Homo sapiens: one gene and its partner. The protein of the gene in region 1 interacts with the protein of each later gene in a biochemical or structural test. Each region holds a gene or a part of one and is shown on either strand. Other genes may lie near its edges.

What was found. The genes of interacting proteins can lie anywhere in the genome.
Region 2: the proteins of NHERF1 (region 1) and PTEN form a complex in vitro, tested with the Homo sapiens proteins (3 studies listed by BioGRID and IntAct).

The regions. Positions count from the first base shown.
Region 1 is NC_000017.11:74,763,691-74,769,853, reverse strand, and holds the end of NHERF1 (Na(+)/H(+) exchange regulatory cofactor NHE-RF1), read right to left. Parts: intron 2,919-6,163; coding exon 2,878-2,918; intron 1,708-2,877; coding exon 1,618-1,707; intron 1,387-1,617; coding exon 1,198-1,386; 3' UTR 501-1,197; downstream 1-500. UniProt on the Homo sapiens protein: Scaffold protein that connects plasma membrane proteins with members of the ezrin/moesin/radixin family and thereby helps to link them to the actin cytoskeleton and to regulate their surface expression. Necessary for recycling of internalized ADRB2.
Region 2 is NC_000010.11:87,866,625-87,874,592, reverse strand, and holds part of PTEN (phosphatidylinositol 3,4,5-trisphosphate 3-phosphatase and dual-specificity protein phosphatase PTEN), read right to left. Parts: intron 1-7,968. UniProt on the Homo sapiens protein: Dual-specificity protein phosphatase, dephosphorylating tyrosine-, serine- and threonine-phosphorylated proteins.

The DNA.
Region 1 (6,163 bases):
GGATCTGGCACCAGCCCAGCCTGCCCCTGGGAATTCTGCACCCCACTGGCTATAGGCAGAAAGAGTAAAGCCAAGTCCTCACATTCCAAACCCAGCTCCATCCTGGGACACACTTTCCACGCTTCTGGAATTAAAGGAACCTCCCAGAGTCCTCTGAGAACGTTGGTCTGAGCTCCCACTTCCCCTTGTAAATATCCCCGTTAGACAAGGGGTCCCCAGCCCACAATCGGTGCTTGCAGCCCAGCACACAGGCACACTGACCACACCAAGCTGAATACCCGGCTGGGTGCATGCATCTTCCTTCCTACAGGACTGCAGCTAGGCCCTCTAGCTAAAGCTACCCAGGCTTGGGGTCACAGGGAGCCCTTGATGGCCCTCCCTCCAGTGTACCCCACCCTCCCAGCCAAAGACCACCTTGGCTTACCATTTCTCAATTTCTACCTATAAGGGGTCCAAGGCCAGAGGACAAAACTTCCAAGGAACACACGGAGGCTGAAGGGTTTGGAGGAACCAGCTGAATTTCTGAAAGTGTTTCCTTACAATGGTGGTACCTGGCTCAGGGATGGGCAGGGGTAGCCAAACCCTCCCCGTGCTGCCCAGTTCGCTGAGGGTGGGAGTAGGAACAAAAGTTTAAGGCTGAGGCCACTGCCATGCCCTGGATGTAACAACCAGGAAAATCATGTTAATCAAGGAAACAAAAATTCCTCTAGACTCTGCAATACTGCACTCTTAACAAAAATCAAATGAAAACAAGACGTGTCTGCCACAGGTCTCAGGGTAACAGATGCCCTGTCCACTGAGAGCGGCAGTTCTGCAGTCAGAGTTCTTTGATCAGCCCTGGACCCATTTATCACATGGGGGAGGAAGGGAGGGTGCCCTCTCGCCTGGTCCCATGATCCTGGCATGGTGCAGGTTCCAGCGATGTCCCAGGCAGGGTGGCAAAGGGACACCCGGTAGGATGAGGCACTCAGTGAGGAGGAGGGAGGCAGAGTCTCCTTTCTGACTGCGGGAGGACGGGAACACATTCACCTTCCCTAAAGTCAGGGAAGAACATAGTTCTCTAGAAAAATCATTTGTCAAGAAAGGGGATGTGGGTGCTGATTTGTACATTGATTCAGGGGAGTAATTGGGGAGAAGGAAAAAGGTGGGGTGGAATGCTGGCTCGGCCCTGCCAGTCACTGGGTGGCAGCAGGGCGCTCAGAGGTTGCTGAAGAGTTCGTTTTTCTTGCTCCAGTCCATCTGCGGGGCCCGTTTGCTGCTGCGTTTCTGGTGGGCCCTCTCTTTGGCCATGGCCAGGGAGATGTTGAAGTCTAGGATGGGGTCGGAGGAGGAGGTAGACGAGGGCGCTGTGGAGTCCTGTTTTGGGGGGCTGTCTTGGGAATTCAGCTGTAAAGAGAAGTGGGGGCAGGAAGTTGGGAGTCAGTCCCTCATTAGGCTCCCTGGTCCTCAGCCTTGGTGAGGTGGCTCCGTTGGGGCCGTGCCCAGGGAAGCCAGGTCACAAGAACAGAATGCGGCTCAGCATGTGACCTCAAAGGCAGGCTGGTGTGCCAGGAACAAGTGGGGCCTGGGAATCGGCTTCCTGTAACCCAGTTGCCACCCCCCGCATGGCTGGCCTACCTCCTCGCTGGTGTCACTGGAGGCGGATCTCACCAGGGCTGGCCTGGGGCTCTCCAAGGCTGCCTCTGCCAGGGCTTCACGACTGTTCTCCTGGCAGAGAGGAGAGGGTTGTGGGTTGTCAGAGGATGGGGTGAGGGGGTCCTGAGGAGGGAGGGAGCTCCTGGGGAAGTAGGGGCCTCAGACTGAGAAGAGGTAGCACTGATGCCCTGGCCACCCACCCCTGGTTCCCACCTCCTGAGCCTGCTGGGGCTCCTTTTTACATTCCTTTGGGGATCAGAGGGCAGGCTGGTTCTACTGCTCAGGCTGGAGGGATGGGATGGGAACAGACCATCATGGGATTAGCTGAACCGCTCCCTCTCCCTGGGCCACTCCAATGTGGCTTTTAGGTACTGGCTTGCCTTTTGGGCCAGTGACCAGGGAGGGGCTTCTTGGAATGTGGGGACACATGGGGGCATGGGGAGCCCATGTGGTGCTCCCTGAATCTCATGTGGTCCACCTGACTGTTTGCCAGGATTTGACCCCAGGAATCCTGAAACCCTAACCCTGAAGCAGCAAAGGAGGGCCTTGAAAGAAGAAGGTGGATGGAAAGTTCTAGATCCAAAGATGAGGTGAAAGAAGGTTGAGGGCTGGGTCCAAGGGCCCTCCCCCTTGCCAAGTACCCTGGCAGGAGCTCCTAGGGAAGGGGAACCTTTAAGCAGACCCTGCAGAGTTCCTGCTCTGTGGCCTGACTGAGTCGGCCTGTCCCAGAGCGAAGGCTTTGGCTGGGGCGTCAGCTTGGCACCCAGCCCCTTCCTGGGTTCCTCCATGGCTTCAGCTGGCGCCCAGCCCCACCATCTCTTCCCCGGGCCTCACCCCCTTTCCCTTCTGCCCAGGGAAGGGGGGAGGAGGGGCTTTGTTCTTCCAACCCAGACTAGAAGTAGCAGGGGCCCGGCTGCCCGTGGCCAGACACTGAAGCTCTGTTCTTGGGGGGAAGAATGGCCCCTTCTGTATGGTGGGGAGTTGGAGGCGGGGGCTTGTCACCCAGGATGGCGGGCTGCAGAGGGGCCCAGCCAGCCCGCTCCCTCCTGACAGCTTTGGCCCCAGGCAGAGGCCAAGAGGGTTCTGGCAGTTCTATAGCTTGGAGCTGAAGAAGGAGCTGGAACTGGGGACCCTGGGGTTTTGGCCTTAGTCAGATGGCTATCCTACCAACCACAGCACCTTCTGATCTGTCTCATGCACCCCAAGGATTGAAATCCAAAGAGACAGGGGACCCGCCCTTACCTTCTGTATCTCCCCATTGGTGAAGGGCACAGGCAGGGGACCTAGGCAAAGGACAGAGCAGAGGTGAGTCCAGAACGGGGATGGAATAGAGCGTGGAGAGGAGGTAGGAGTTGGGTTTGGGCAGATTATTAGATCTTGTTCCCTGGGTCAACATCTCAAACTTTTTTGACTACCACCCACCATGAATACATTTGCCTTATTTATTTAAAAAAAATTTTTTTTTTATAGAGATGGGGCCTTGCCATGTCATGCAGGATGGTCTCAAACTCCTAGCCCCAAGCAATCCTTCCACCTTGGCCTCCCAAAGTGTTGGGATTACAGGTGTGAGCAAATGTCTGGCCTACGTTTGCCATTTTGATGACTCAGCACACACAAAGATTTTGTGTGATAAAAGTTTCACAAAGCAACACCCTTACTACAGTGTTCTTTGATATTTTTAATTTCATTTCATTAAAAAAAACAAAAAAATGTCTGGGCCAGGCATAGTGGCTCACACCAGTAATCCCAGCACTTTGGGAGGCCGAGGCACCTGGATCACTTGAGGTTAGGAGTTTGAGACCAGCCTGGCCAACATGGTGAAACCCCGTCTCTACTAAAAAAGACAAAAAGAAAATTAGCTGGGCATGGTGGCACACGCCTGTAATCCTAGCTACTTGGGAGGCTGAGGTGGGAAAATTGTTTGAACCCAGAAGGTGGAGGTTGCAGTGAGCCGAGATCACGCCACTACACTCCAGCCTGGGCAACACAGCAAGACTCTGGCAAAACAAAACAAAACAAAACAAAACAAAAAAAACAAACCAAAAAACCTGCTGGTCTCTATCTACTAAATTGATCTTATGAGGCACTGATGGGTCACAAGGTGTTTAAAAAATGTATTGTCTCAGATGGGGATGAAATTCGAGGATGGCTGCCTAATTCCTACCTGGGAATTCCTACCTGGGAACTCCTACGTGGGAAGCTTGTTAAAGTACAGATTCCTGGACCTTGGCAGCACAGATTCTGGTTTAGTGGGCAGGCCTAAGAATCAACATTTTCCAAACGCTTCCCAGGTGATGATGATGACACCAAAATTGGAACCACACCCCAGACTATAGTTAGTACCTGCCTCAACTGAAAGAGAAAATAGTCTGGGCTCGGTGGCTCATGACTGGGACCCCAGCACTTTGGGAGACTGTGGCAGGCGGATCACCTGAGGTCAGGAGTTCAAGACCAGCCTGGCCAACATGGCGAAACCCTATCCCTACTAAAAATACAAAAATTAGCCGGGCATGGTGGCAGGCGCCTGTAATCCCAGCTACTCAGGAGGCTGAGGCAGGAGAATTGCTTGAACCCAGGAGGTGGAGGTTGCAGTGAGCCAAGATTGTGCCATTGCACTCTAGCCTGGGTGACAGAGACTGTGTCCGGAAAAAAAAAAAAAAAGGCCAGGCGCGGTGGCTCACACTTGTAATCGCAGTACTTTGGGAGGCCGAGGTGGGCGGATCACAAGGTCAAGAGATCGAGACCATCCTGGCCAACATAGTGAAACCCCATCTCTACTAAAAATATAAAAATTTGCTGGGCGTGGTGGCGCATGGCTGTAGTCCCGGCTACTCAGGAGACTGAGGCAGAAGAATCACTTGAATCTAGGGGCAGATGTTGCTGTGAGCCGAGATCGCACCACTGCACTCCAGCCTGGGTGACAGAGCAGGACTCCATCTCAAAAAAAAGAAAAAGAAAAAGAAAAAAAGAGAAAATAATCCCAACTCCTATTTGCCAATCAGGAAATGAGGGGGGACGAGAAGGCTCAAGGGGTGTGTCCTGGGTATCCCCTCCCCCAGCCAGTGGGAAACCTGGAGGGGTCAGAGGGAGAGAAGACAGGTCTGGGGTCACCTTCACTGGGCTCACTCAGGGTAGGGGTCCCACATGGCTTCAGGGGTGGCTGTTCCATCTCCAGGGACTGGTCAGTGTAGGGCTTCTTCTGAACTCTTAGCTTAAAATTCCTGGTTATCTTTTCCCTGTCCCCAGTCCAGGACACAGCCAGAGATACCTGACTCTCATCTTCTCCTCCCTTTTGACACCCACAGCCTTCCCCGGGCAAGGACAGGCTGCTGGGACACAGGGTCACTCACTGTCCCCTCCCCATCAGCTCACAGTGGTCAGGGTGAAACCCTGGCAGCCGGAGAGGGGGGCATTCCTCCCTATGGAAAGGGTGAGGATGCCATCCTGGAGGGACTGCGGGGAGGGGACTGTCCCCAGGCCTCTCCCTCTTCAGGTCCTTTGGCCAGAGGCTGCAGCCCCTCTAGCCCGAGAGACAGGCAGAAGAGGGAGGAATGTCTGAGGGGGCCAATTACCTGCAGGGTGAAGGGGTGGGGGAAGCAGGGGACAGTATCCCAGGAGCTGAGTGGAATCCAGATTCCAGCTGTGTCTTCCTCGTATCAGATCCCTAGGAGGAAGGCTGGGGCTTCTCTGGGCCTTAGTCTCCCCCTCAGTGGAGAAGGGGATTATCTGAGTTACCTGGTTTCCATGAACTTGGGAGATAAGGGTAAGGCGGTACCCCACCTCCCATGCCCAGAGCCAGCTAGGGACTTCCAGGGGCCATCCCCTCTTCTAGGAGCCTCAGGCCTTGGATTGCGCCAGAAGGGGACAGGGCCTCCCCAGTGGGCCCTTGCAGCTGGCGATGGGAGTCGCAGGACCTTTGTGTGAATCTCCTTTTACACATACAACCTTGAGTCTCCAGGAGGCCCCACCCACTGCAAAGTCCCAAGAGGTTCCACCCTCAGTATGGCCCAGTGAGCACCCCTGCCCGCTCCAGGGAGCCATCTTCCCAGGGAGAAAGTCCAGACCAAGGAGCAGAGCATGCTTAACCCCTCCCTGCCCCGGTGCAGCAGCCCTGCCCTGTTTGGCTCGGGCCTGGGCAGGGGGAGGCGCCAGGCTTGGCAGGGTGATGGTGGGGGATGGGGAGGGCAGGGGCCCAGGGATTGAAGGGGGACCCACTACTCTCTAGAGCCAGCAAGGCTGAGTTTCCAAGACAACCTGAGAGGAGGGAGGGGGAGGCACCGGCCCCCGTCACTGGACTCTGATCTGACCAAGCAAAGGCTGGAGGCCTCCCCGGAGTTAACCCTTTCCTCACATTGACACTGCCCTGAAAGTCTGCTGGTGGGGACAGGACTGGGGGCTTGGGCCTCCTTTGGGGCTGCAGCTTTGGCCGGGAATAAGAAGATCTGTCCATCTCTCTCACCGACCTCATGCCAGCTGACCCCATCACAAGCCGTCCTCAGAAACCCACTGCCACTCCCTACACTAGGCC
Region 2 (7,968 bases), on another chromosome or scaffold:
TAAGGCCTTGACATTTTATTCTGCATTCAAAAGTGAGAGGCAAAGCAAACTGTAAAATCATGCAAACAGAAAAAAAATCACAGCAATCTATTCCTAGAACCCTTTTGTAATTACATTTGCCTGCCCTAAAAACAAAACAAAACCAAAAAATTCAGAATCCACTAAAGCTACCTTCTTGGCATCTTCCCATCTCTGGGCTAACCTAAAACTCCATTCCGATTTTGTTTCTTTTTTTCTAAAACTTCACTTTAATACAAGTTTCTAATTTAGATAAATAAAGCACTTTAATTCAACAGGCTGGCATAGCAAATTTAGGGCCTAGAAAAGAATGCAACACATGGATCAAAGAACCTTAGAGTCAGCCCTATTTTCTTTACTTAGAAATATTTAAGTTTGTATAGCTCGTTGGAAATTTGCAATTTTACATTGTACATTTAACTTCATCATATCTGACTATAATAAAAGCAGCTTTAGAATAAAAAAGCATAAGGTCAAAGAATACATTAAATAACAAAATAGTAAGAGAAAAGTAACTCCCAACAGTTCAACAACTACATAATTAAAGGAAAAAGGATTACTTTAAAAACTACTAGCAAAATTAAAAAAAAAATTAAACATCCTTCTGAATACTACGTACAGTATTAAAAACACTTACGGAAAACATCTTCAACCTTTTCTAACAGAAGTTCAAAGCAACACTTTCACAATCAGCCAAAGAACACATGAGTCCTCTTCAAATAAACCTTTTTTGTTATTAGGGATATCTTCTGTGGACAAAGTTCTTATTATCATATAAAGAATACTGGCCTAGCAGCAGTCAGAACACCCAGATGTTAGGACTAACTCCATCACTGATTTAGTAAGTTGACCTTCTTAAATATCACACCTGGGGGCAAAGGTACTGATTTTCATCAAATATTATACTTATTATATACCAGACATTTTACACAGCATTTTGGGCTAGATAATTCTTTGTTGATGGGGAGGGGTCTTGTGCCATATAGGATGTTAAGCAGCATCACTGGCTTCAAGCCCCTAGCCAATAGCACACTCTACCACCCCAGCTGTGACCACCAAAATGTCTCCAGAAAATGCTAAAAGTCCTAGAGGAGGTGAAAGGGGATCACTCTCAGATGGCAACCAATACTCTGAAAAAAACCTCACCTGTACTTTTAACAAAACTAAAAAACCACTGTACAAGTTTAGGATTTTTACTCCCATTTTGGAGTTGTCGAAACAGGGTTCACTAAGGTTAGGCAGTGTATCTACGTAACTGATAAGTGGCTGAGCGGGGATGTATTTATTTATTTATTTTTGAGAGAGGGTCTCACTCTGTCACCCAGGCAGGAGTACAGTGTCCCAATCACAGCTCAATGCAGCCTCAAAGTCCCAGTCTCAGGTGATCCCACCTCAGCCTCCTCAGTAGCTGGGACTACCAATGCGCACTATAACACCCGACTAATTTTTGTATTTTTTTTTGTAGAGACAGGGTCTGCCTATGTTGCCCAGACTGGTCTCGAACTTCCAGACTCAAGCAATCTGCCAACGCTGGCCTCCCAAAGCACTGGGATTACAGGCATGAGCCACCACGCCCAGCCTTGAGCAGAGATTTAATCTGGACTTTAGGTCTAGCCAACTCCAAATCTATGCTCCATTCCACCATACTGCCTTTCTAAACTCACTATCTCGTCTATAAAATCAGGATAACATTTTCCATGCAAAGTTACTTAGAGTTTACAGGTCAAATGAAATAATGCATGTATAAATTCTAATAACCTAAAGGAGTATAACATGTTAAGGGTTTGCTTGGTGGGAGATAATGTTCATTGGTGGTCCTCAAAGTGTGATCCCCAGAGCACCAGCATCAGCATCACTTGAAAACTTCTAAGAAATAAAAATTCTCAGGTCCCAATCCAGACCTACTGAATCAGAAACTCTGAGGGTGGAGTAAGCAATCCATAGCTTAATAAGCCCTTCAGGTTGTTCTAACACACTGAAGTTTAAGAACCACTCATGTAACATAATGGGAAAAATACTGCACCAAGTGCCAAAAAAGTCCTGCATCCTTCTTCAGACTCAGTCTTTCACTAGCCATTAACAAGATACTGATTCCACTGGAGCTACAATTCCTAAGCTGCAAAAAATAAATAAATAAATAAATAAATAAAATAAAAAAGAAAGAAAAATAAAAGTAATGCCTGTTCTGTCTGCCTCTTAGGTTACCTGTTCTTCTTTGCAAAATCAAATGAGCTAATGATTTAAAAAGTGTATTGTTAATCAAAAACTACATAAGACAGAGTATATATTAGCTAATTCAGTATCTTTCATAAATGATTCTTTCAAGGTATACAATAAATTTTACAACATGGTCAAATTAAGCCTAGCAAAACACTGTTTTTACCTTATAAAAATGAATAAAATAAATTTTAAAAAATCCCAGGCATTCCATTTTATCGCTGACAATCAGTGTAAAATAATTTATAATACACACTAAAAAAAAAACCTAAAAAATCAAGCTTAATGACATCCCCAAAATTTCATTTTAAAAGTACAGTTTTCAATTCTATCTAATTTCATCTCCAATCAGTTTAGAGTAACCAGAATACTCAAAAAGAAGTCTCACAAAGAGAGGGAATTTTAAATGGAAAAGAATCCTGCATTTTGAAATAAGCAAAAAGTTTGTAACTTTAAACATGTATACGATATTTATGAATCACTCTAAAAATACATCTATTCATGCCAGCAATGGTGGGTTAAATTTTTAAACGCATCTAATTAAAAGAGTATCTGAGGCCGGGCGCAGTGGCTCATGCCTGTAATCTCAGCACTTTAGCAGGCTGAGACAGGCAGATTACCTGAGGTCAAGAGTTCGAGGCCAGCCTGACCAACATGGAGAAACCCCCCATCTCTACTGAAAAAAAAAATATAAAATTAGCCGGGCGTGGTGGCGCATGCCTGTAATTCCAGCTACTTGGGAGGCTGCGGCAAGAGAATTGCTTGAACCCAGGAGGCGGAGGCTGTGGTGAGCCGAGATCACACCATTGCACTCCAGCCTGGGCAACAACAGCAAAACTCCATCTCCAAAGAGTATCTAATTCAAATCACAATGCATTTCATAATACCTTAAATAATTACATCCTCTTCAAAAGATCAAAAGTATTAAACAAATAAAATTCACAGAATACAATCTTTGCAATTACTAGTAAAGAACAGAGAACCTTATTGTACTTCAGCCTGAAAATCTACAAAAATCAAAGGAAATAAAAGTCAAAGCTATGCTTAAGTGCTCTAATATTAAATCAACAGTAAGTCTTAGGTAGTGATCTAAAGCAAAAACTAGGTGCAAGGAGAGAGATTGATTTAGAAAACTCAGCTGTGCTCAGATGCCAAAATGCACAATTCAATTCTACAACCTAGACATGGACCAAAAATACAGCTAGTTTACAAAACACATAAAATGCATAAAAATCACATAATCAGAAAGTCACATAGTATCAGACAGAGTGTATTCACTCTGCAATATAAAACACACACACAAAAAATCCACTCACTAGAAGTCAAGTGCTTCACTACTAAGAGTGCTGTGGTACATCTGGGAAATCAGTACAGCCCAAGGGGGGGAAAAATAATAATCCCTATGTACACATAATGGCCTTTACTGGACAGATAAGCTTATTCCATCTTTCCCCATATTCAATTAAAAAAATGAAGAAAAAAATCCTTTAGTTCTTTACTTCTTTCTTCCCACGTCTTGGGCCTAAATCATATTGAGAATCCTGGCCAAATGTGGAAATAGGACTCAATAATACAGAGACTGAATACTTTAAAAGTTCCCATATTATGTTAATGCATTACAGATTATATTAAGTGTCCATTTTATTGTAATAAATGTAACTTGACATTCAGTTGCAAGACTCCCTCAAAAGGCTGAAATTTTCAAAAGGAAATGCTAAAAAATATACCTCTATTGACCAAAGTTTACATAACTCATATTAAGTTTATTACATTTGAGGCAGAGTTTACTTTATGTGAATAAAAATGTATGATAGTTAAGTTGACCTATCTTCAACACTAAAGAAAATTTAAGATTATAACAAAGTTTAAAAATTCTACTTCATTATGCTAATAGGAAGTTTTTGCCTTTTATATTTTAAAGCAAATAGTTTTTGATTGGCATAATTAATTTTACTTTGGTCAACAGTTTGAGTTAGCAGAGATTTATTTCCCATTTGTGATGAACCAGCAAAATCACAGACATGTCATACCCAGACTTCCTAAAGGAATACCCTTATTTTTAAAAACACTTATAACTTGAAACAAAATCCTAACATGGCCCAAACTGAGGAAATTCAGTTACAATCATACACCATAAATGAAAATACAAATAATTTCCCTACATACATAACCTGAAATTACAGTTTTTCAGAGCAGTAGCTACCATTTAAGTATTTACAATGTGGCAGGTACTATGCTAAATGAAATTACTTATTATTATCTCACTTACTATTCAAGATAAACGTATGCGGTAGGTTCCATTATCATCCCCATTTTACAGATAAAATAGATTGAGAAAATCTAAATAACCTACTCAAAGTCATCCAGCTACTAAATGGAAGATCCAGGATTACAAAACAAGCAGTCTGGCTCCAGAGCCCACACTGCCTCCCTAAAATCTAAAATGAAACAATGTATATATGCTTAAAAGTATAGATAAACGTAATACTCAAAATTTTAACATAATTTAAAATAGATCTGACCATATTTAAAAACTATAGAACAATATTCTCTAAGGTAGTCTTTTCTTTAAAGAAACAAAAATTCGTTTTTTAATAAATATTAAGATAAAAGGTTTGCTAACTTTGTATACACATACACACACAGAGAAATCAAACACTGGTTAGATTCACTGTTCATATTTGAAGTGGTGAGTACTGATAATAATTATGTGTATAATTACTTAAAATATAATGTGTAAACAGTCTTCTTTTTCACACTATGTGGAGGTCAAGAAAATTCTTTTGATGGCAGGTACAGCTACAATATCCATCTCTCAATATTCTCAACACTGGCCAGGCGCAGTGGCTCACGCCTGTAATCCCAGCATTTTGGGAGGCCGAGGCAGGCGGATCACTTGAGGTCTGGAGTTTGAGACCAGCCTGGCCAAGGTGGTAAAACCCCATCTCTACTAAAAGTACAAAAACTATCTGGGCGTGGTGGCATGCACCTATAATCCCAGCTGCTTGGGAGGTTCAGGCAGGAGAATCGCCTGAACCTGGGAGGCAGAGGTTCCAGTGAGCCGAGATCCTGCCACTGCACCCCAGACTGGGCGATAGAGCGAGATTCCATCTCAAAAAAAAAAAAAAAAAAAAAAAAATTCTCAACACTGCCAAAAAGTAATGCCTTGAAGATGTCCTAATACCTTGAAGATGTTCACACATGTCCCAATGTCAACTGTTGCAAATGAAGAATCTGCCTTAACTATACAGAACTAAAACTTCCCAAATAAAATTAATTCACCCTTAAATTATGTTACTCTTCTTATATTTGCCGATACTTATTTATTCCAGTGCAAATTATTTTAAAAGAATTAAATTGCTAATACTTCCTCTGCAACCAATGAAAAAAATTCAAAAAACTAAGGGAAAGGTGAATAGTCAAGTACAATATACTAATTTCACCTTTCTTGGCAAATTATTTTACATTAGTGAATGCATATACTCAATATGTACAAAGAGAATCACCAAACACAGACCAATATACTTTTAACCACCTATGGAAGAACGTATATGTGGCAGTAATGCACCCTATAAAAGACTTACAGTTATCAGTTTGCTCAGCAAAGCCTTACCAATTTAAGGTTAGTCTAACCTCAACATTATTCTCTCTGATAAGCAACTAAATTAATTTCAAAGCTACCAAATAGAAAGCAATTGTAAAACAGAACTGACTGACCCCAGTCTCACAAATTTCCTAAGTCACTATCTTCAGAACAAATCCTAACATCTTTTCTTAATGAATTCAGGCCACAAGATGAATTCTTCAATGCTGACTGTGAAAATCAAGTTTAACAGAAAAAATGAAGAAAAAGGTAACAAGATTAAGAACTAATGGGTTCCATGTAATAAAACTTCTGAACTGTTTGTTTAACCCAACGGTTTCTACAGAAAAAAAAAAATACATTTCTTAAGCTATGTTAATATTACATTTTCTGGAAGCTAAATCCTTGTAGTATGGCAGAGGCCTCACATTTCAATTAAGCAGAAAATTGTCATATGCATGCAACACTTCTACAATTCTCTTTACAAACTCTGAAGTCACACACAATATCAATAATAAAAGTGATTTCCTAAGCTTTCGTCTTACTTAAAAGATTGAGATGAAAATTTAAAAATAGCACGTTTACTTCAAGTGAATTAATGTTAAAACTTTGTGAAGTGAATTTCCCATAACAAATACTCCTCCATTAAAAGTCACTGAAGTGATTACTTCAGAAGCGGCTTAAAATATTTTTTTAAGTGTTGCGCTATCACCAAATGAACAAACAGCAAATGGAGGCAAATTTCAAAATAACATTAGAAAATAAGAATTGAAGACTTCTTCACTTCCAAAAAGTAAGCCATTTCATAACACTAAGAAGTTTATGTATTTTATGTGGCTATGAGAAAGCAGATGCACTGTTCCATACAAAAATTAAAATATCACCAGTTGCCTTTCCCATGTTATTAAAAATAAAATTCTAAAAAGGTAATAAAGGAATCTTTCTTTACTATCTTCTAAAACTAAGTTTAAAATGAAGGTGGTTATACCTCACCATATTTTATTATCTTTAATCATTTAGTATTTACTTAGTATATTATAAGCAATGTAAATCTGCATTGATGACTATACTGCTGTGCAAACTTTTACACTGGCAGCAATAAAATTCCTTTTTCCTCATATAAACTGTACATTACTCCTTTCAGTTGTGCTTTACACTTGAATAAGCACTATGAAAAATGAAGTTTGTAAGTTATCATACAGCAATTAGGTGGTCCAGTCATGTTTTTCAGGAAATATAACTTAGCAGATACAAAACAATGTAAAATAAATGTTGTGAATAGAATACTTTTTAAAACCCTCATGATTAATTTCAGTAATCACTTACCTTGAGGTAATTTAGGTAACTTCAATAGTCACTGTACTCTCTACAAGTTAAAAGTATTCCCTGTGAACATTTATTTGAAAAGAGGCAAATCTACCAAACAATAAAAATACAACAGAAGCCTAACGTTTCCACATACCCTAAATACACTTAATTTTTCTATAGTCTCAAATTCAGCACTATATTTCAGACTAATATTAAGCATATAACCCTACTAACAAATTTTTAGAATAATTTAATTTTGCGATAATATTTTAAAACTGAATTATTGTCCTCAATTTTCCTCGGAGAAATGGCTTCATTATTAATCTTTCTTTATCAGATAAAAATACTCCAATCACTACTTTCATAAAGGAATTTAACTTTTCACAGGTTAGTTACTGAAATAAATACTACAACATGTCAAAGACAAAGTCTTCAATGACAATTTTAATGCCTTCCCACTCCAATAAACAGAAAACATTAACGTGAAAACAAGCAAACCAAGTACGTTGGAATATCAAAATTATTGGGAGTGCAATTATCAAAAAAGCAAGCACTTCACTGACTTTCCTTACTGACTTTTTTTCATATCAACTTTTGGCTCAATAAAACCACAACTCTAGAAATTAAGTGTTATTAGTCATTTGACGCAATATTTGATACTGCTTTCTATGCATATCATAACTAAAAGTACAGTTTTAGAGAAAGTTTTAAGTCACACAAATTTCATGTGTAGAGACCAACATACGCTGAAATCAAAGAAAATGCCAGTCATGTCACAGCTCACATGTAAAAACCTGGTAAAATAATTTTAAGGTCTTAATAACCCTGATAATTTAAAATCA